Homo sapiens: one gene and its partners. The protein of the gene in region 1 interacts with the protein of each later gene in a pairwise test. Each region holds a gene or a part of one and is shown on either strand. Other genes may lie near its edges.

Evidence for each region. The genes of interacting proteins can lie anywhere in the genome.
Region 2: the proteins of CFAP68 (region 1) and COL8A1 interact in binary tests that used the Homo sapiens proteins (3 or more experiments, as listed by UniProt).
Region 3: the proteins of CFAP68 (region 1) and DTX2 interact in binary tests that used the Homo sapiens proteins (3 or more experiments, as listed by UniProt).

The regions. Positions count from the first base shown.
Region 1 is NC_000011.10:111,875,134-111,882,554, reverse strand, and holds the start of CFAP68 (cilia- and flagella-associated protein 68), read right to left. Parts: upstream 3,015-7,421; 5' UTR 2,995-3,014; coding exon 2,950-2,994; intron 1,071-2,949; exon of another isoform or gene 1,033-1,070; coding exon of another isoform or gene 940-1,032; intron 188-939; coding exon 1-187. Other genes in the region: FDXACB1 (ferredoxin-fold anticodon-binding domain-containing protein 1), read left to right, coding at 3,423-3,594, 3,843-3,999, 5,544-5,747, 5,916-6,074, 6,451-7,421. UniProt on the Homo sapiens protein: Microtubule inner protein (MIP) part of the dynein-decorated doublet microtubules (DMTs) in cilia axoneme, which is required for motile cilia beating.
Region 2 is NC_000003.12:99,634,509-99,641,614, forward strand, and holds the start of COL8A1 (collagen alpha-1(VIII) chain precursor), read left to right. Parts: upstream 1-4,085; 5' UTR 4,086-4,156; exon of another isoform or gene 4,157-4,172; intron 4,173-7,106. UniProt on the Homo sapiens protein: Macromolecular component of the subendothelium. Major component of the Descemet's membrane (basement membrane) of corneal endothelial cells. Also a component of the endothelia of blood vessels.
Region 3 is NC_000007.14:76,457,697-76,464,729, forward strand, and holds the start of DTX2 (probable E3 ubiquitin-protein ligase DTX2), read left to right. Parts: upstream 1-4,012; 5' UTR 4,013-4,140; intron 4,141-4,243; exon of another isoform or gene 4,244-4,915; intron 4,916-5,748; exon of another isoform or gene 5,749-5,848; 5' UTR 5,849-6,013; intron 6,014-7,033. UniProt on the Homo sapiens protein: Regulator of Notch signaling, a signaling pathway involved in cell-cell communications that regulates a broad spectrum of cell-fate determinations.

The DNA.
Region 1 (7,421 bases):
ATCTTTCCTGGTTCCAGTTGCCCATCAGGGTACGGTTTGAATAGGTATTCTCATTAGTGGTGCATCGCCATCCATACTGGAAAAACTTGGACATATTATTCCAATCTGTCCACACTTCACCATGGCCATCTGCATTAACAAGGCTGCCACAGTGTGGGTTTGTGAGGAAACAGGCGAGGTTCTGTCTCTGGGAAAAGACAAGAATAGAAAAGCTTATTGCATAAACCAGAGAAGAGAAAAAGCATCTTTTCCTGCCCTTGTTTTACATAGCCAGGTATAACACAAGCACACCGTACTAATGATCCAGGCTATGTTATGGTTCTGTTTCTTCTTCTCTAAGTCCTGGGACCCTTTGATCCATTCTTTCAATCAGCAACAGTGGGTGACTACATGGATTAAATCCACACCCCCGCTCCCCAGGCCCCGTGAAGAGACAGGAAAAACTTCAGTATTCCCAATACAATATGGAGAATTAGCTAAATTTTTAAGGTAATTTTGAGATGTAGGCATTGAGGGACTAAAAGCACTGCTACAGTCAAAGAGAACAAAAAGAAGTGAGAGTTGAGTAACTAGATAACACAATAAATGAGTAATAAATGATCATTTCCTTCCTTCTAGCTCAAATGATGCCTTCCCTGAAGTTAGCTTCTCTTTCAACTCACATAAAACTTTATCTTTCCCTGTATTTATAACTTTTTACCATACATTAGAGTTCTTTAAGTCTGCATTATATCTCCTATACAGAGCTGTATGCCCCTTAAGGACAGGATCTGTTTTATTCATTATTGTACCCTGTCCTTCTGCCTGTTCTCCCAATCAATCTGGATTGCATATACCAGATGATCAATGTCTGATTTCATTTTTTTTGGTAAGATAAAAGCTCAATCTTTCTTTTTCCCCAAAATGTGAGTCTGGCCCCCTGACTTAGGAAGATGATACCTTTCCTGAAGAAGAGTAACTTGATGCTGAGTAGGTTGAGCTCTTTGAAGATTTCTTATGAGAGTCACAGAAATCCTTACTTGGCTGTTCCATGTTCTTTAAAGATGTCAACAAACCTGGCTTTCCCAGTTCTCCAAGCAAAGAAAGAATCACCCAGATTACCATGGGCAAGTGGCCATGATTTGGGAGTCACCACCCACTTGCCTTTCCACAGGCAGAAACAAAGCCAATAATGCAGCATTGAAGGATGACATCCCAGGTAACTACCCTCATACCATCTGCCTTTGTGAAGACAGATGCATGCACTGATGTTACCAAACAACATGATGACCAGAGTAGCTGGTGCCACAAAGTCCAATGGGCCTGGTACTCATACTGGAGATCTAGGTGTAACTGTCTCTAGGGCTGGAATGACAGACATCACCATCCACTCAGTTGTCCAAGCCAGAAGCCTGGGGCTTATCTTTGACTCTGACTTGTCTTTAATTTTCATCCAGTCACTAAGTCTTGTTGATTTTTGAATCAGACTGCCACCCTCCATTCCCATTGCCAAATTTCAATTCAAATCACTGTCAGCTTTGTCTCCATTATTGCAGTTGCCTCTTGTTTTATCCTGCCATGCCATCAGCCTTGTTCCTCTCCAAACCTTTCTCCACAGGAAAGGAGAATTTTTCAAAGTGAAAGTATAATTGTATCATCTTCTTATTTAAAATCTTTCAGTGGCTTTCCACCGTTTTCAGAGTAAGATTCAGTCTGTTAAAATGGCTTACAACAGAACAGAGAACCAAATACAGCATGTTCTTGTTACCGGAAGGGGTCCTGATCCAGACCCCAAGAGACACAAGAAATAATTCAAGGTGAGTCTATAAAGCATAAGGAAGTTTATTAAGAAAGTAAAGGAATAAAGAATGGCTACTCCATATGCAGAGCAACCCTGAGGGCAGCTGGTTGCCCATTTTTATGGTTGTTGATTATATACTAAACAAGGGGTGGATTAATTCATACCTCCACTTTTTAGACCATATACGGTAACTTCCTGACTTTGCCATGGCATTTGTAAACTGTCATGGCGCTGGTGGGAGTGTAGCAATGAGGATGACCAGAGATCACTCTCATCACCATCTCGGTTTTGGTGGATTTTAGCTGGCTTCTTTACTGCAACCCGTTTTATCAGCAAGGTCTTTATGACCTGTATCTTGTGCTGAGCTATCTCATCCTGTGACTAAGAATGCCTTAACTTACTGGGAATGCAGCCCAGGTCTTAGCCTTATTTACCTAGCCCCTATTCAAGACGGAGTTGCTCTGGTATAAATACCTCTGACATTCTCACTTATAAGTGGGAGCTAAACATTGAGCAAACATGGACCTAAACATGGAAACAACACACACTCCAGGCTACTAACTAGAGTGGGGAGGGCGGGTGGTGTGGGTTGAAAAACTATTAGGTGCAATATACCCATGTAGCAAACCTGCAACCTACCTGGGTGCAATATATCCACGTAACAAACCTGTACCTGTACCCCCATTTGTAAAATAAAAGTTGATTTTTTTTAAAGGCTTACAACGCTCCCTATGACCTGGCCCCTGCCTAACTCTTCAGTCTCATCTGTTACTCTCCCTCCAATTGTGTTTCAGCCAAACTCAACTATTCTGTTTCTCCATCAAGCTTTTGCATATATTGTTCCTTCTGCCTCTTCACGCCTCTTGACTCAGTTAAGATGCACTTTTACCCTGTTAGCTTTCAACTCGGGTTTACTTCATCCAAGGACTCTCTGACCCTCTTCGCCCCCAAACTTGGTAACGTTCTTCTGTGTGCTCCCAGAGCACACACCCTGCCATATCAGAGTTGCCTGTTTTGCTCTGTGCATTCCCCACCAGACTGCAGGCTCATTGAAATCATAGGCCACATTTTGTTCATCCACATATCGTAACCACCCTCACAGTGGCCTGGCACGCAATAGACACTCAATACTCTTTCTTGAACGAATAGAAGATAGGAGATTTAAGCACCTGGAAGAGAAATTTTGAGCAGCAGAGACACTGGGAGGCAGCCATTTCAGACGAGGTGAAAAAAGGTTCAAAACCTTCTGCGTCAGGAGCATGCGAGACACAGTCCAACCTCTTCCTTGGCCTCAGCCCCGCCCCGTTTCTTTCACCCAGAACTCGCCTCACCCCCCTGCGCTAGTGACTGCTTGTGACCTCATGCAGGTGTGATGAAGTCGCTCAAGGCCATGCTTGGGCTAAAGACACTTTGATCTTCCCGAGGGGGTGAAAGGGCGAGGTGACAGGAAAGTGCGCGTCTTGCTTTTGCACTCATAGTTATCATCCACCGGGGAGTCGGTACACCGGCTCGTCTAGACAACCAGGCGCCATGGGTGCGTCATCAACTAGTGACGGGAGAAGACGGGGCGGAGAGAGATCCGTGAAGGAAGTGACGTAAAACGAGCGCCACAGAGAACGCGAGCCGGGAGTCCGTGGAGGCCATGGCCCCTCGGCGCCTCCTGTTGGTTGGGGAGGGGAATTTCTCCTTCGCCGCCGCTCTGAGCGAAACCCTGGATCAGAGCACTCAACTTACCGCCACCTGCCTCCAGCGCCCGGCCGAGTTGGCTCGGGATCCACTGGCCTGGGAGAATCTGCAGTGCCTGCGCGAGCGAGGTAGCGAGCCCGCCCCTCTGCGAAACCCCGCCCAGCGGCCGGCGCGTCCCAAAGTGGAAAGGGTGGGGGCGTGGGGATGTAACCCACGTGGAGATTGTTCTTGATCGTCCCACGGATATTCACATAAAGCCGGCTTTGTGCCCAGACTTGGGCTGGTCTGCACGGTTTAAGTTAGGAAGAGTTTTTCTGTTCCATGTCTTGAGGCATCCTCCTGTCTATATTTTGCGCCCCCAAACTATCTTTGCCAGGTATCGATGTACGTTTCGGTGTGGACTGCACCCAGCTGGCAGATGTCTTTGAACTGCACGAGAGAGAATTTGATCAAATTTATTTCATCTTCCCGCATTGTGGACGCAAAGCTGGCGTAGCTAAGAACAGGGAACTGCTTGCCAAATTTTTCCAAAGGTGAGGAAAGGAGCGCCCTCACAAGGAAAATGTTTAAGATGTCCATAACATAGTTACTGTACCCAAACATAAGGCACACGTGCAAGCTACTATGATATGTTTAGAAGAGACTATAAAGCCCCAAAGGAACCCCAAGTTTAGTTGGAAAGACAGATATATAAACCCTAAATGCTAAATGAAAGTACAAATAATGTACTCTTGGGTGTGTAAAAGAGGATCATTTATTTTTGACAGTGCAAAATAATGAGAGCCATATAGTCTAATGGCTAAGAACGTGCACTTAGAAGCCAGACTGCCTGGATTCAAATCCCAGCCCACCACTTAACAGTTGTTATTTTTTTATTTTTATTTATTTTTATTTTTTGAGACAGAGTCTCGCCCTGTCGCCCAGGCTGGAGTGCAGTGGTGTGGTGCAATCTCGGCTCACTGCAAGCTCCGCCTACTGGGTTCACGCCATTCTCCTGCCTCAGCCTCCCAAGTAGCTGGGAGTACAGGCGCCCGCCACCACGCCCAGCTAATTTTTTGTATTTTTAGTAGAGATGGGGTTTCACCGTGTTAGCCAGGATGGTGTCGATCTCCTGACCTTGTGATCCGCCTGCCTTGGCCTCCTAAAGTGCTGGGATTACAGGCATGAGCCACCACGCCCGGCCAACAGTTGTTATTTTAAGCAAGCTTACTTAATCTTTACATGCTTCCGTTTCCTCAACTGTAAACTAGGGATATTAATAGTAACTAACTGGGCCAGGCGTGGTGGCTCATGCCTGTAATCCCAGCAGTTTGGGAGGCCGAGGTGAGCAGATCACCTGAGGTCAGGAGTTTGAGACCAGCCTGGCCAAAGTGGCAAAACCCCGCCTCTACTAAAAATATAAAAATTAGCTGGCCGTGCTGGCACGTGCCTGTAGTCCCAGGTACTTGGGAGGCTGAGGCAGGAGAATCGCTTGAACTTGGGAGGTGGAGGTTGCAGTGAGCTGAGATCGTGCCACTGCACTCCAGCCTGGGCGACAGAGCAAGACTCCATCTCAAAAAAAAAAAAAAAAAAAAAAGTAACTAACAGCCTCATAAAATTATTGTGAACTGAAAACAGTGCTTTACATGATTATACCACAAGACATGATACTATTGGAGGTGTCCGATGGGGCATAGCTGTCAATAAAGTTTTGACAGAGGTGGTATTTTAAACTAGTATTTGAATTTCAGGAGGGCAGTGAAAAGAACTTTCTAAATGGGAAGAAACAGCCTAAGCAATGAATCATATATAGGAACTGTGCAGATATTGATCTTTCTGTGACATATGCATGAATGACACAAATGCAAAGCAGACCCTGGTCAGCCAATCTTATCAGTGAGTGGGTTGAACATTTAATTTATGCTTCTATTTACTTCCAGCTACTTTCTTTGCATTTTTTGAGGTCTAATAGATTTTTGCACATAGGTATGATTGGATTTTAATTATTTCACAGGCAAACCATGTGTATGTTGCCAACTCCTGTGGTAATTTCTGCTTGTTTATGATAATTAGTTAGTGTTTCTTTTCTCCCTATTAGCTGTGCAGACGTTCTTGCAGAGGAAGGAGAAGTCCACGTGGCATTATGTAGAGGACAAGGTGGAACTCCTGCGGATAAGCCCCAGAGAGAATGGCACAACAGTTGGCAAGTGGTTGCCATGGCAGCCCTGGGGGGGCTCATTTTAAGCGACGTGTATCCATTCAGCTGTAAGGCTGTGGCAGGGTACAAGTGCACTGGATATAGGTAGGTAATAGCATAGGTTTAAGCCTTCTGCGTTTTCATCTCTCTCACTAATGATAACAAAATCTCATAGACAGACTCAATAGGCCCTGCCAATTAATTGATTCGGTCTCTAAAAATACTTGCTTATTTTAATAATGACAGACTTCATATTGGTGTCTATTTTGCCAGGAGTCAAGATAAGTCCTTTCATGTAGAAGGTGCTTTGAACCATATCTTCACCAGGAGCTTACCTTTTGAAGGTTCTCAACCCAGAATCTTCAGGATCAAACTGGGTAACCAGTGGTTTTCCTTTCCAGAACCAGAAGCACTTGTAGGAAAGTTGAACAGGTAACCAGTTATTTTGCTGGAAATCACTTCCATCTCCAGTTGTATCCTGATTGTCTTGATGGCAACCATATATTGAATGGATGGTGCATAAATTGTTAGTGATGTTGGTGCTATGTTTATTTGTCAGCCTGGCCTCCTTAAGCATCTCTAGAATTATAAATGGTCACATTTTCTGATATATTGTAGGGATGGTGGCTGTCAGAGTTCTGAAATACACGTCTGTTTCTCCTTATGGTAGATGATTTCTTTGTTTCCTTTCAAGATCAATTTAAAGATAATTCTTTTCTGTCCAGCTATTTGTATTTTTAATTCTAGCTACATTATAATTATTTACTATCTTAAGTTAGAAAAGTTATTTTTGTGTGTGTTTAAACAGGGGTTTCCTGGAAGCACCTTCATGTCATCCTATCAAAACCATAAATGAGAAACTCATTGCTGAATTAGGCAAAGTTTTCCCGCTAAAAAGGCTGAAGTGTTCCTACCCTTTGCTGCCACAGGAAGGTACCAGTGTTCTTCCTTTCTGGAATTGTGACTTTCTGTCAGCTGCTTTTTGGATTAGTCTCCATGAAGATAACTCAAATTCTGAGTCCCTGACTGGTGGGACATCACAAGATGTGGAAGACTTTCTAGTGTCATTTTCAGAACTTAGCCTTCTCAAGAATCCTGGAAGAGATGGTAAAGAAGAAGCTTGTGAAGGAACCTGTGGCCAGGCCAAGATCTGCCTTAGACCTTCTCTCCTAGTGCATGTTCAGGATGTCATCGAAGTACCAGACTTCCTCTCAGGTTCTCTGCACATCCTCAGTGGACCTGTCTTTCAGAAGTGCCACATTTTGCCTTTCACAATGCCAGCATTTCATGAAACTTTATTTATCCTTGGGGTTAATCAAAATCTGAAGGATGGCTGTCTTCAATCACTGCTGGATCATCTGAAGGGCATTCTAGATAGCCTGCTGACCCAGACATTGCCGGAGAGCTCTAAGCTGAGCAGTTTAGTCAAATTTGTCCTTCAGTCAAATGGAAAGGATTATATGATTCGTGTGAAGACTCATAATTTTAGCCCAGATTGTACTGAGGATCTAATTATTGGGTCTGTTATCACATCTGCCACTAGTGTTATACATAAAGACCAGTGTTTTGTGTTTGTGTCTATGAACTTGGACTTATTAGCCATGCTTGTCTGGTGTATCTCTGACTGGAGAATGTTGTGGACGTTTGATAACCGTTTCCTGAAAAATTTTGTCCCTGGCAAAATAGAACCCTTTAAAAGTCATTCTCTGTATCCTCCATGTTATGTGCATGATGTTAGTTTTTGGATAGATCAGAAGAAAGGATTTGATGAACTAGAGT
Region 2 (7,106 bases), on another chromosome or scaffold:
TGCAGTTTTTAAAGCCAGATCACACTGTTTTCCAATCCAGAAATCCTTGAAAACTCAAGGATCTCATGGATCAGGTATATTATTTAGGGATAATGTAAAGCTACAGCAGGTGAGAAAGACACTGGGCTCCTCGGACACACAGAGAAGACATCACTCTTTATGTGAATCCCATATGTCACCCTGGCCACACCGTGAGAGGGTCCTGCCTTCCTACCCCCTTCCTACAACCATACAGGACACTCCAGGGAAAACTGGGCTAGAACCACTACTGTTTCTGCCACCTTGCTCAGGCCTCCAAGTCTGCAGGATGCAGACACTCTGTTTTCTCTATTTCTAAGTATGCTATCAGTCTGAGATGCACAGGCAAGCATTTATCTGCAAAGCCACAATAAAGACCCTATATTCAAAGAAAAATGAAATCTTGAAAATATGCCACTTTCACCATGCCATTCTATTGCTCAAAAGTCTTCATTGATTCTGCATTGCCTACAGAATATAGTTTATACTTCAGACTACTGAGGTGACCTCATCCCTCCTCATCCCTCCTCTCCATTTCTCAGCCTCATTGTTCTACCACATGGACCTTTCTATACAGTCATGCTGGCCAATTCACCACCTTCTGAATATTCCTGTGATTTCCCTGGTTGCACACATATCCTCCCTTGCCTGGAATGTACTACTGTCCATCACTCGTCTATTCAAATGCTACTTTCCATGGCTCAGCTCAAATGCCACCTCCTCCCTGAAGTCTCTTTACTAAAATTCAACTATCAGGATTTCATGCTTTTCTTCCTCTGTGAGAAAAGATGTCATATTTTCCTCTGCTTTGAATACCTCACATTGTCTGATATCCATTCTTAATAAATATTTGTTAACTGATTAATTCTAAATAAACTCCAAAAAAGGGTTACATTTGCAAAGCTCTCAAAAGTAAGGTAATGATCTGTAGCTGTTATAGCCACACAATGGAAACTTCAGAGCATCTAGTATGTTGTCATTGGATTCCTTTCCTTCCACAGAAGACCAAACTAGGTCATTTCAAACCTCAGTCACCTTCAGAGAGATTCTAGGAAGGGCACACTAAGAGTCAGCAAAGAGACGACATTCCTGGATTCCTGACTTGTTGTCCAGATCTGCTACTGAATCAGATTCAGGTAAGTGTGAATGGGAGAAATGAACTAATTATTAGTGCCATCCAAAAAAATGAAAGCAGTGCTTTTGTTATGTTGGCTGGTTTGAAAGGAAGAAAGAATTAAAAATAAGAAGAGAAATTCAGCCTACAGCCATCAATTGTCTTTTCTTCAAATGTGCTTTTCTTGCCTTTCTGGTATTTTTTTTTTTTCATACGTATGTGATGGAACTGGAATGTTTGAGAAGAATTAACTTAGGATAGAAAAGATGATTTGTTGTAATCTGATAAGGGTATTTACTAACATACTTTATCACCCAGCTTCTCCTCTAAAAGTCCCATTTTGTTTCCCCAGAACACATTTCTTTGCTAAATTAAAAAGTTCCAAAAGTGGTATTGTGCTTGTAAAATCACATCTGATTTCAGCGTTATGTCCAAGAATAGATAATGCAGTCCTATTTCTAGGTCTAGTAACAAGTGTTACTCGTTTGACAGACTTCACTCAGTAGATTTGGCCACATCCTCAAAAGACATACTATTTGGGAAGAGGAAAACTGAGTTATGGAGGGTAAGAAGAGAGTAAAACCAAACAGCAAACGGGCAGAAAGTTGATGTGAAAGTTTTAGCTTTCTAAGCATTCATTAAACTAACAAATGCTGACCATTCTCTATTGTCAGTCCTCAATATTGCTGTTTATTCAATTAGCGAGACTATACATATTTATTGAGCACTTATTTTTTACTAGCTAGTAAGCCACTAGTTATAACTTTGTGCAGCCAAAAAATTATTGAATATAATTTGAATAGGGAACATAGAGATAAAAAATTATAAAAAGGCGAATAATCAATAATGCAAAACATCGTGAGTAAATTTGAAAACTCTGGTGTCAAATTTGTGTTTACGATAAAAATTTTAAATTTTTTATTTCATATATGATTGTTCTTGCCTCATATCCCGGGCACATGGGAGTTTATTTCGTTGACTCCCAGACGTAACCAATTGAGAATAAGCTTAGTTACAAAGGAAGTAATTGAGGCTTTGAGCTCTTGAAGCTAACAGATGGAAATACGTATGTAAAAACCTAAGTGCTGTGTAAACTCGGCACATATGGACGTAGGTATTATTATTATCCAAATGGCACTACTGGGTATTTTCTTAATAGATTCTTTTAAAATGCTTTTTTATAGTTGTGGGCCTTTTTTAGACGAATAGTTCTTAAGAAGAGGAGGGGATTTTGTCCCTCAGCGACATTTGGCTAAATCTAGAGACATTTTTTATTTTCACAGCTGGGTGGCGAGTGCGGAGTGGGTACTGCTACTGGCATCTGGTGGGTAGAGGCCACGGACACTGCTTAACATTCTACAGTGCACAGGAGAGGTCCCTACAACAGAGAAATATTCTCCCGAAAGTTTCAGTAGTGCTAAGTTTGAGTAATTCTGCTCTTCACCATCAAGTTTCCTTCTCTTGGAGCCTGCTACCAGCCAATGACATCAGGATCTAACCTGAGACGAACCTAGGTGTTCTATACGGCAGCCTGGTGTACTGAAGAGTGCCTAAGGTTTGCAAGCTCGCTAGCTGTGGCTCCCCCTCTCGCTAGCTTGAGCTAGTTATTTAAACCCTTAGAGATGCCTTTCTTTAAATTAAAAAAAAAATAAATAAATCTGCACAATATGAATCATACCTACCTCATAAGGTTGCGGTGAACACTGAATGAAGTACATATATACATATTCAGTACAAGTTCGTTCCTTTATTATTTCCAGCCTACCCATCCCTCCCCCCTCCCATTCCCGCCTTTTCCCCCTCCCGGTACTGTATCTCCCACCCCAAGTCTCAGGTTCTCTTTTAAAATGCTTTAATTCCTTTGGTGGCAAAAATCAGGCTTGGGCTAGGAAGTGAGTCACCACTCAGCAGCGAAAGGAGCTTGTTTTTCTTTCTCTGAATGCATTTCTTAGTAATTTCAGACTGATCCTTTAGCCACTTGTTGGTTGAATCCTCTCTTAATGTTTAAGACACACTGAGAAAGAACTGTGGCACCAAGACGTTTTCCGATTGTTAGGAATGAGAGTGTTTTAAATACCGAAAATAACCAGAGGGCAGAGAGCTCTGAAATCCTACGTTACATAAGCAGATGCTGGAAGACCCAGGCTGGTTCTGAGGTTCCTGTCTCCACAAGCAAGTCCACGCGAATCCTCCCCGTTGCTGGATTTACTTTAATGCTGCCGAAGTCTCAAAAGGGGCCTCTGGATGCTCAGAGGACAGGCAGCGCAGGAACTTCCTTGTCAAATAAGCCTTGCCTGGAGGGAGAGGGATGGGGCGATTTTCACCCGCGGGCGGTGGGACGGGGCTGAGGGCTGGGGGCTGCCTGGCTCCAGGCCATGTCAGTGCCTCCAGCTCCAGGTCCGGGTCCACCCTGAACTTTGGCTCTGCTGCCCGGACGCCCAGCTTCACCTCCCTTGCCTCGCTTAGAAACCCTTCAGTTCTCCCGGACCGCTATGTAGCTTTTCAAATTCCCAAATTCACAGAAAACACCTTCAAAAGTCACAATCACCCACAACTCCCTCTGCCAAAAAATGTCATGCAAAAACGGAAAATACTCCGATTCCCCTTTCCTCCCAGACACTCTCTCTCTCTCTGTCTCTGCTATTCATTTTCTCCCCCACCTTTCCCCATCTGTGGTCAAGATCCCTTTCACTATTTCTAGTTCCCTCTCTTTTTTCCCTTCTCCCTCTCTCTCCCTTTTCCACTCCTTCCTCCGTTGTGACCGCGCTCCCCCTCCCCCCGCCCCGTCGTCTCTCCTCCGCCTTGCGGGCTCCAGTCTCTGCCCGCCCCTCCCCAGAGAAGAGTGTCCAGCTCCTCCAGAGGCTGCCCGCCCGCCGCTCCTTCCCTGCCCACCTACTATGAGGAGCAGCTCCTCCCACCTGCCCATAAAAGCCAAGTGCATGTTACCAGCAGCGGATCACAGCCCTTCCCCGATCCTCTCCGTGGGAGCCAGCGAGCCTCTCTCCCTGATCTTACGTGCTCAAGGTAAGACAGCACTTCTGCAGGCAGCTCACCTACCAGGGGTTGCTATGGGGGAATAAGTCACCCTCTGGCCAACGCGTTTGCTGTTTGGTTAGAGCTGATTCTTACGGATGCGCGATCCGCTGCTCCTTTAACTAGCAACTGGTTTGAAAACAAACTTCTGTTTGAATGGTAAAATAAAAGCTCCTTCAGGGAAGAAACAGCAGCATAAATATTGCGAAACCTTTCTCTTTTTAAATCACTTTTTCTCCTGTTGCTGACTGTTGCTTAGGTTAAAATGTATCTGTTTGGGGTGTTGTACTGACGTTTTTCACTGTACATATTTCACACATCAGTGGGGGCAAGGAAAACGTTGTCCCATTGTCAAAAATGTACTTTAAAAGAACACAGTTAACTTCCTAAAAATAGCACAGTCAAAAGGTCTGCTAACAATTTTGTGATGTTTTCCAAACCCCCAAGACAGCTTCTGTGAGTCCTTTAAAAAAATATCTTTCCAGGTTTTAGCGCTTGGAAAAAAATGATGTGAACGGGTGCCCTTTGCACGGGGACAGTAAGTAATCAGGTGGCTGGTAGATAGGAAGGAACAAATCCAAATTCACAAGCCAGGGTAGAATGTGCTCTCTCACCAGGCTATCTTTTCACGACATCCTAAAATGAGAATTACGATGGAACTAAGAAAGTGTATAAAAGAACTTCATGAATTTCTGTACACACACCTAAACATAAAGTGTTTCAATATGTTTCACAGTAAGAGAATAATACAGGCCAGATTATACAATACTTCTGTGCACACCAGATGGTTGTAAAGAAAGATCAGCGAGAAAGGCTTTGGAAGTTTTAATCCTTCTTTCCACCTTTTTTCCCCCGCATTTAGTAAATCACAACCTACCTGACTGGCATCCAATTATCAGAGATATTCAGTGTTTAAGCTACCCTCTTTAAAAGAAAATGATCTCTTCTTATTCCTAAGGTAGAATAAATGTGCACCTGTGAAAGGAAAAACATACTCCACAGCCACTTCTGTAAAACCAGACACTTGGTCCATGAAGTTTGCCATCAAATTCTGTGGGTTGTGTGGGATGAAACTCTCTCAAGTGGGAGAAAAACCCTCTTCAAATGTTTCCTCTGGGGAATTGCTCAAGACCACTTAGAGAAGGCAAACCAAAAGTACCAGTCAGGAAACCAAACCACTCTTTTAGCCCTTAAGGTTCTTAAAGTAAGAAGAGAAATGTTTCACTTTTTTATTTTTTTGTTTGTTTATATTATCTCATGTGGAAAGAAAAAACTCACCGAAGCTGTATGAAATTCTCCCCTATTAAAGAAACAAGACTCATTAGAAATTTAACTTAGGTCTTCCAAACCATTTCTCCTTAGCTTTTGCATATCAAAAGTAATAAAAATATTTAAAAGTTCTGCTTGAGATGGAGAGGATTCAATGCTGTTACTCAAATGCAAGAGTTATATATAAAGCTTCTGTCACGTTAAATTTTTCTTCATTGGAAAAAAATATTGCAAGAAGTGCAGTTTCCTTTAAGCAAATTATATAAAATTACTATTGGCCAAGATAGTATGTGACCTGAGCATATTAACATACCTTTTATCTCATGCCACAATGCAGACTGCTTGCTTTATATCTGATGCACATAGGTAATCAACCATGACAAGAGTACAGGTATGGGACAAGGCCAGACCAAGTATGTGGCACATTCAAGTTAATTCTTCTTTTATGGTAGTGCCTGACTCACACCCATTATCACAAGGATGAAAATACGCTGCTTCATTCACCAGATCCCCTTGAGGGAAGTTATCTTTTCTTGGGGTGGAGGGGGAAATGCTCCCAGTTTAAATGAGCTTCCAGTTATTCCTAAGTTTGGGGATAAAAGTATTCTCCAAGGGTTTACTTCTGCTTTCTCTGGCAATTAATCCACCGGACCAGCTATGGACCGTTAAACAGTAACTGCCTTCCCTATGTCCCATCAAGTTCAAGCCCCTAAATAACTGAGTGAGATCATCTTAGATTGCTCATGATCTAAGTTTCCCAGGAGCAAAGCTATCCTTTCTCCATAGGGTACATACCAAGCAAGATGACACTGCTCTTCTTAAGCTTTTAGAAAAATCAGTGTCGAAGTTTCATGTAGTCGCCCCCAAATCTCCCCTTCTGCATGGGATGTGGATACTTCACGTGAGTCTCCTCTTTTTGCCATTATATAGCTGCCTCTTGATCAAGTCCATGACTATACCCAACCAATGCCATTGAGGCAGACTTGGGAGGACTTCTTAATGTTTCTCAGAAAAGATAAGATGAGAAGCTGCCGCTTTCACTAGAGACACAAGAAGGGAGCTCTACTGATTTTGAGGGCTTGCTGATCCTACAGAAATGTGCATTTTAGATGTTCTACTACTGTCAAAATTATAAAATGATATCCTTTTCATGATCAGAAAACATATGCCACTTTATTCCTATTTATGAAATAAAAATCAAGGAGAAGAGGATTGGGGTGAAAAGGGACTTGAAAGAGAAGCTGGAGGAATCACAGAAGTGCCCTAGGAGAAAAGCAAGATTAGGAGCTCTGTTACGAAACGCAACTTCTCCCAACCCTCATTTATGTGAACATGAGGGGATGGGGAAGAGCAAAAATCCATGTCTGCTCTTGTCTTTTTATTTGTTTGTTGTTTTTTAATCAATGAGAGTATAAGATCCATCTCTACTATGCCCTTCTTCTTAGCCCTCCTTCTTTAGCAGAAAAGAACAGCTTGGTTCTAATGATGAAAATGATTTCAGGTTTGCCCCATATTTAAAAACCCACAGTAATTTGCTAGTCATAATTCTAAAAGCTATACTATGAGTTAAAATAAAAAACTCCTTAAAACATGTTTTTAACTAACAGATGGGTCACGTCAACAAAACCAACCCTAAGTCTCCTGAAAAGTGTAATGTTGAGTGCTTATTTGT
Region 3 (7,033 bases), on another chromosome or scaffold:
GGGTTTCCCCATGTTGGCCAAACTCCTGACCTTATGTGATCCTCCCACCTTGGCCTCCCAAAGTGCTGGGATTAGAGGCATGAGCCACTGTGCCCAGCTGACAGCCCTCTCTAAATCTTTAAAAATTCAGTCAGGCGTGGTGGCTCATGGCTGTAATCTCAGCACTTTAGGAGGCTGAGGCAAGAGGAATGTGTGAGCCCAGGAGTTTGAGACCAACTTGGGCAATATGGTGAGACCCTATCTTGACAGAAAATACAAAAATCAGCCTGGCATGGTGGTGCACGCTTGTAGTCCCAGCTACTCAGGAGGCTGAGGCAGGAAGATCACTTGAACCCAGGAGGTCGAGGCTGCAGTGAGCTATGATCACGCCACTGTACTCCAGCCTGGGAGACACTGTCTCAAAAAATAAATAAATAAAATCTTTAACAATTCTTCAGCTTATCCGCCTACCTTCTGGGGCTTCTTGGGTCTCTTCCCAGAAACTTTCTTCGTCTGTAAGCCCGTTTATTGTATGCAATTGTTTAAAAAACACAAATGGGTGCATATTCTCATATTCTCTACCCTCTATTTTGAACGTTCCTTTTTTTTCTTTTTTTCAGACCGAGTCTCAGTCTGTCACCCAGGCTAGTGCAATGGTGCAATTTTGGCTCACTACACCCTCTGCCTCCCAGATTCAAGCGATTCTCCTGCCTCAGCCTCCCGAGTAGGTGGATTACAGGTGTGCACCGCTGCACCCAGCTAATTTTTGTATTTTTAGTAGAGACGAGGTTTCACCATGTTGGCCAGACTGGTCTTGAACTCCTGATCTCAGGTGATCCACCTGCCTCCGCCTCCCAAAGTGCTGGGATTATAGGCATGAGCCGCCTTGCCTGGCTCAAAGTTCCTTTTTGGTTTAACAATAGATCTAGGCCACTGTGAGTCTTCCTCATTCCTTCTAGGGCTACCTAGTGTTCCGGGGTTATTTAACCAGCCCCCTCCTACCAGGCAGTTCTTTTGTCTCTGGCCCTTTGCTACGTATATTAGTTTAAAGTTCACTTTGCAAGTGGCCAAGCCTGTTTCCCTCATTTCCAGGTTCCCAGGGGGCAGACATCCTGCTGCAATTTCAGAAGTCAGCACACTCTTCTCTCTCCTGTCTAAAATACAAAAGTCCATGCCCCCCACTCTCCCTCTTGATACTGTCCTATTTTACTTCTTTTCACAACCAGAACTCTTTATTTTTCCCAAATAAAAATAGTCCGTCTTTTCAGATTTTAAAAATGGAACTCTGGCCGGATGCGGTGGCCCTCACCTGTAATCCCAGCACTTTGGAAGGCTGCAGTGGGCAGATTACCTGAGGTCAGGAGTTTGAGATCAGCCTGGCTGACATGGTGAAACTCTGTCTCTACTAAAAATACAAAAATTAGCCCGGATGCGGTGGCTCACATCTGTAATCCCAGTACTTTGGGAGACCGAGGTGGGCAGATCACGAGGTCAGGAGTTCAAGACCAGCCTGGCCAACATGGTGAAACCCTGTCTCTACTAAAATACAAAAATTAGCTGGGCATGGTGGCATCCGCCTGTAATCACAGTTACTCGGCAGGCTGAGGAAGAATTGCTTGAACCTGGGAGGCGGAGTTTGCAGTGAGCTGAGATTGTGCCATTGCACTCCAGCCTGGGCGACAGAGCAAGACTCCGTCTCAAAAATATATATATATACAAAAATTAGCTGAGTGTGGTGGTGCATGCCTGTAATCCCAGCTACTCGGGAGGTGAGGCAGGAGAATCACTTGAACCTGGGAGGCGGAGGTTGCAGTGAGCCGAGATTGTGCCATTTCACTCCAGCCTGGACAACAAGAGCAAAACTCGTCTCAAAAAAAAAAAAAAGGAAAATAAAAATCCCTGATAAAGGATCAATGACCTTAGGATAATGTCATTCCAGGTAAGTATCTTTAACTGGGTACTTGGTCCTCCAAGATTCAGAGGACCTTGATCCCCCTGAAACTGTATACATAATATTCAACATACATAGTATGTGCACACATGTGCAAACACTCACATTATCTAAAATTCATCATAATCTTACCCCGGCTTCTCCCCACACTCCTCAGATCCTGCTATAGCCTAGTGCATTTTCTCCTTCCTCACTCCCTTCCCTCCATGTGTCCTCTGCCCTGGCCACCAGGAACTTTGTGCTGCCTCCGGAGTGCATGAGGCACTTTCACATCTCTCTTGCTTTACAAGAGCTTCCCTATGCTCCAACTGGCAAATTTCTCTATGGACTGAAAAACCCACATAGCCTTTATCTGTCTTGTGATGTCTTCTCCCCACCCTCAAGTTAGGCATACCCTTCTATGCCCTCCTTTATCCAAACATTTTCCCCACTATATCGTAATTGTGTGTTTAAGTGCCGGACTTTCCAACTAGATACAAAGCTTTCCCAGGAAAGAAATCCTTTTCTTTTCTTCTTTCTTTCTTTTCTTTTCTTTTCTTTCTTTTTTTTTTTTTTTTTTTTGAGACAGATTCCCACTGTGTCGTCCAGGCTGGAGTGCAGTGGCACAATCTTGGCTCAGTGCAACCTCCACCTCCAGGGTTCAAGTGATTCTCTTGCCTCAGTCTTCCAAGTAGCTGGGATTACAGGCACGCGCCACCACACCCAGTTAATTATTATTATTATTATTATTTTTTTTTTTTTTTGAGACGGAGTCTCGCTCTGTCACCCAGGCTGGAGTGCAGTGGCACAATCTCGGCTCACTGCAAGCTCCGCCTCCCGGGTTCACGCCATTCTCCTGCCTCAGCCTCCCGAGTAGCTGGGACTACAGGAGCCCACCACTACGCCCGCTTAATTTTTTTTTTTTTTTGTATTTTTAGTAGAGACGGGGTTTCACCGTGGTCTCGATCTCCTGCCCTCGTGATCCGCCCGCCTCGGCCTCCCAGAGTGCTGGGATTACAGGCGTGAGCCACTGCGCCCGGCCTCCACACCCAGTTAATTTTTGTATTTTTAGTAGAGACGGGGTTTCACCATGTTGGCCAGGATGGTCTCAATCTCTTGACCTTGTGATCTGGCTGCCTCGGCCTCCCAAAGTGCTGGGATTACAGGCGTGAGCCACCGCTCCCGGCGAGAAACCTTTTCTTTTTCTTTTTTCTTCTTCTTCGTCTTTTTTTTTTTTTCTTTTGAGAGGGATTCCTGTTCCGTCGCCCAGGCTGGAGTGCAATGGCGCGATCTTGGCTCACTACAGCCTCTGCCTCCCGGGTTCAAGCGATTCTCTTGCCTCAGCCTCCCGAGTAGCTGGGATTACAGGCACGAGCCACCACGCCCGGCTAGTTTTTTTTGGTATTTTTAGTAGAGACGGGGTTTCGCCATGATGGCCAGGCTGGTCTGGAACTCCCGACCTCAGGTGATCCGCCCACCTCTGCCTCTCAAAGTGCAGGGATTACAGGCATGAGCCACTGCGCCCAGCCAAGAAACCATTTCTGATTCACCTATTCACTCCCGCACTCCCACTACACAGTAGCTAAATAAATAAATAAATATTAAAAATAAATAGGAAAGAAAGAGAGAAAAAAAGAAAAGAAAAAGACAAAAATTTAAATTTAAAAAGGTTGTGCTCGATGGCTCACACTTGCAACCCCAGTGCTTTGGGAGGCTGAATGAAGCAAGAGGATCGCTTGAGGCCAGGAGTTTGAGATCGGCCTGAGCAACGTTGCAGCATTGCAAAACCCCCATCTGTACAAAAAAGAAAAATAAAATTAATTTTAAAAACAAAAAAAGAGAAACAGTAGCACATGTATGTACTGGCACCATGTATGTACTAGTAAAAACTAGTTAAAATTAAGTCAGTAATTAATGAAGGAATAAGTCAATGAGTGAGCAGGCGAAGGAAGAAAACATAGACCGGAGCAGGTGCGCCTTGGGTTGAGCCCTTCCCCGCTGAGCCCCGCCTTCTGCCCGCCCCTGGGCCCTACCGGGACTACATTTCCCAGAAGGCCGCACGCCCCGGGCATGCGCAGCGGCTCGCTCGGAAGCTGCGACGCCGAGTTTCACTCTGGCTGCCTTCTCCTGAGAGTCGGAGCCACAGCCAGAGCCCTGCCCAGGCCGAGCCGGAGCTGCAGCCCGAGCGCGGTGGTGCCCTCAGCCCCGTCCTCTTGTCCTCCTCAGCCTCGGTGAGAGGGCGGGAAGGCCACCTGCGCGTCGCTAGGGCTGCGGTCCCAGGGGCGCGGGGTGGCGCGGGGAGCCGGAGCCTAGCTGGGACCGGAAGGGGGCGGGCGTGGGTGTGAGGGGGACCGACGGCCGGGGCGGCGGGGACACCCGGGGGTCCCGGGAGATCGGGGGTGTCGGGGGGATCGGTCTCCGGGATCAAGGTCCTGAGGGCGAGAGTTGGGGGACTTGGGAGGCGCCGGCAGCTTTGGACGGGACAGGGTGCCGGGTGCGAAAGGGGACGTTCGGATGAAGGCTGAGGGGCTCGCAGGCGGAGGGGCGCGGTTCCGGGTCGCTCGGAAGGCGCGCACCCCTTCCCAAAGTACCCAGAGGAGGGGGTGACGAGATTGCCACCGGCTCCCTGACGAGGGGTTGGTCCTGCTGGGGTCTACCCCCAGGTGAAGGGACTCACTGGGCCGGGGGTTGTACTTTGGAGGAGTTTGCTTCCTAACTCTGCTTCCCTGCTTTCCTGTGGGGGGTCTTCCCAGGAGTTCCTGGGGCCCTGGGTCACTTTTTGGGGTGCGTAAGGGGTGCCGAAAAAGATTTAGAACTCGGTTCCCTTTTCTGGAGCTGCGCTTTCATCGCGACTGTCTCAGCCAGCTGCCCTCCTCCTCCAAGCTGGCTCCACTTCTCTAAGCGCCAACAGCGATGGAAATAAATAGCATGTGTACAGACGCCTGGACCCTTGAGAAACTCAGAATATTTCTGCATGCCTTCCTAGCTCCTCTAGCGCTCTAGAAGGTAGACTTTCTGGTAGCCACCATCCGGGCTTAAGCCATCCGGATAGCAAGCCCTCTGATTCGGTTGCTCTGTGACCTTAAATATTTACCCTCTCTGGTGTGTTGATTTCCTGGATGCTTAGCTGCCAGACTGGCTTATGAAGTCCTTTTAGAGTTTTCTGTAAAAGGGCTCAGGCCAGGCACGGTGGCTCATGCCTGTAATCCCAGCCCTTTGGGAGGCCGAGGTGGAAGGATCATTTGAGTCCAGGAATTTGAGACAAGCCTGGGAAACGAAGAGGATTCCTGAGATCACTGTCTCTATAAAAAATCAGATGGGCGTGTTGGTGGGTGCCTGTAGTCCCAGCTACTTGGGAGGCTGAGGCAGGAGGATCGCTTGAGCCCAGGAGTTGGAGGCTGCAGTGAGCTGTGATCACACCACTGCACTGCAGCATGGGCGACAGAGGGAGACCCCGTCTCAAAAAACAAAAAACAAACAAACTAAAAAAACGAACTTTTTTTTTTTTTTAAGAAAAGGGCTCAGAGCCAGGCGTGGTGACTCGAGCCTATAATCCCAGCTACTCGGGAAGCTGAGGCAGGAGAGTAGCTTGAACCTGGGAGGCGGAGGCTGCAGTGAGCCGAGATCACGCCACTGCACTCCAGCTTGGGTGACAGAGCAAGACTCCGTCTCCAAAAACTAATAATAATAAAAAATTTTAAAAAGAGCTCAGGGTTTTTTTGTTTGTTTGCTTTTTGTTGTTTCTTCAACCATCTCCTTGATTGTTAAGTGGGTGGAGGAAGACTGTTGTACCTCCTGCTCCACCCAGGCTATTGGAAAATAAATCTGGTGATTTTCAGTCCCCAGGCACAGCACACGGATCCAACATCTGTACCTTTGTTTTTACTAACTGCTGTTTCTTAATTTAAAACCTGATCATCTTCTTCCTCGTTGGCAAAGGTGCCTTGGAATTTGTGTCGCTGAGTCAGCAAGCCTTTCAGATTTGCCCGGTTTTTGTTGTTTGTGGTTTGTATCAAGATGGGAACTCAAACAAGTCATTCCTCCTAAGGAGCTGGTGTCTTCATCCAGAAGGGACAGTTTGTGCCAGCTCTCCAGAGAGAAAAGGTGAGAGCCATGGGGACTTGACCTTGCTGCCTTCTCTATCTGGTGCAGAGAAGGTGGGGATTGGGGAGGGTGGAATTTGAGGTCTGCAGGATAAACGTGTGCCCTGGGAGTTGACTGTTGATTGCCACCTGTCTCAAATAAATTGCAGTGGCGTCTTGCCACTGCTTCTCCTGTTTAACTAACTAGTCTTAGAAGATGCTTTCCACTTTAAGACATGCTTTATGGGATAGAAGACACAAGTCACGATTTCTGCATTTGAAGTGGCAGTTTTCATTTCTTTTGTTGCATAAACCCTTACTGGGTGCCAGATAAGATCTCTGTCTTTTGGGAGTGCATTGTTTGGTGGAAAAGACAAAGCAGAGTCAGTGACAAGGTGTTGTCAGTGTGATATATACTGAGCTGGGAGAAATCACAAGGCTCTCCTACCCACATCCAGAAAGGGGACGGTTAGAGGGAAGGTCAGGAAGGCTCCTGGAAGGTGGTAGTTGAGGGGGGTTGTGAAGGAGGAGTAGGACTTAGAAAGTGGGGCACAGTCACCTGGGAGAGGAGTCAGCGTTTGCAAAGTCATGAAGCTACCGGGACACAGCTGGGCTACTGTAAGTAGCTTAGTATGTAATAGAGGAGGCTGGAAAAGCAGGCAGAGGGCTCTGAGCGAGGAGGGTTATGTGGGCCATGCCAAGACTCGGGAGTGGAAGGATTTTAGGAGATTTCTATGAGGGTCATTTTATTAATTATTTTTTTGAGTTGGGGTCTGCTTCTGCTGCCCAGGCTGGAGTGCAGTGGAGTGATCATAGTTCACCACAGCCTCAAATTCCTGGGCTCTGGGGTAGCTGAGGTGCCTACCACCATACCCGACTAATAATTTTATCTAGAGACAGTGCCGCTCTACGTTGTCCAGGCTGGTCTCTAACTCCTGGCCTCAAGGGATCCTCCCATCTCAGCCTCCCAAAGTGCTAGGATTACAGGCCTGAGCCACCGTGCCTGGCCTCGTGAGGGACATTTTAATGGAGCACACTGGAA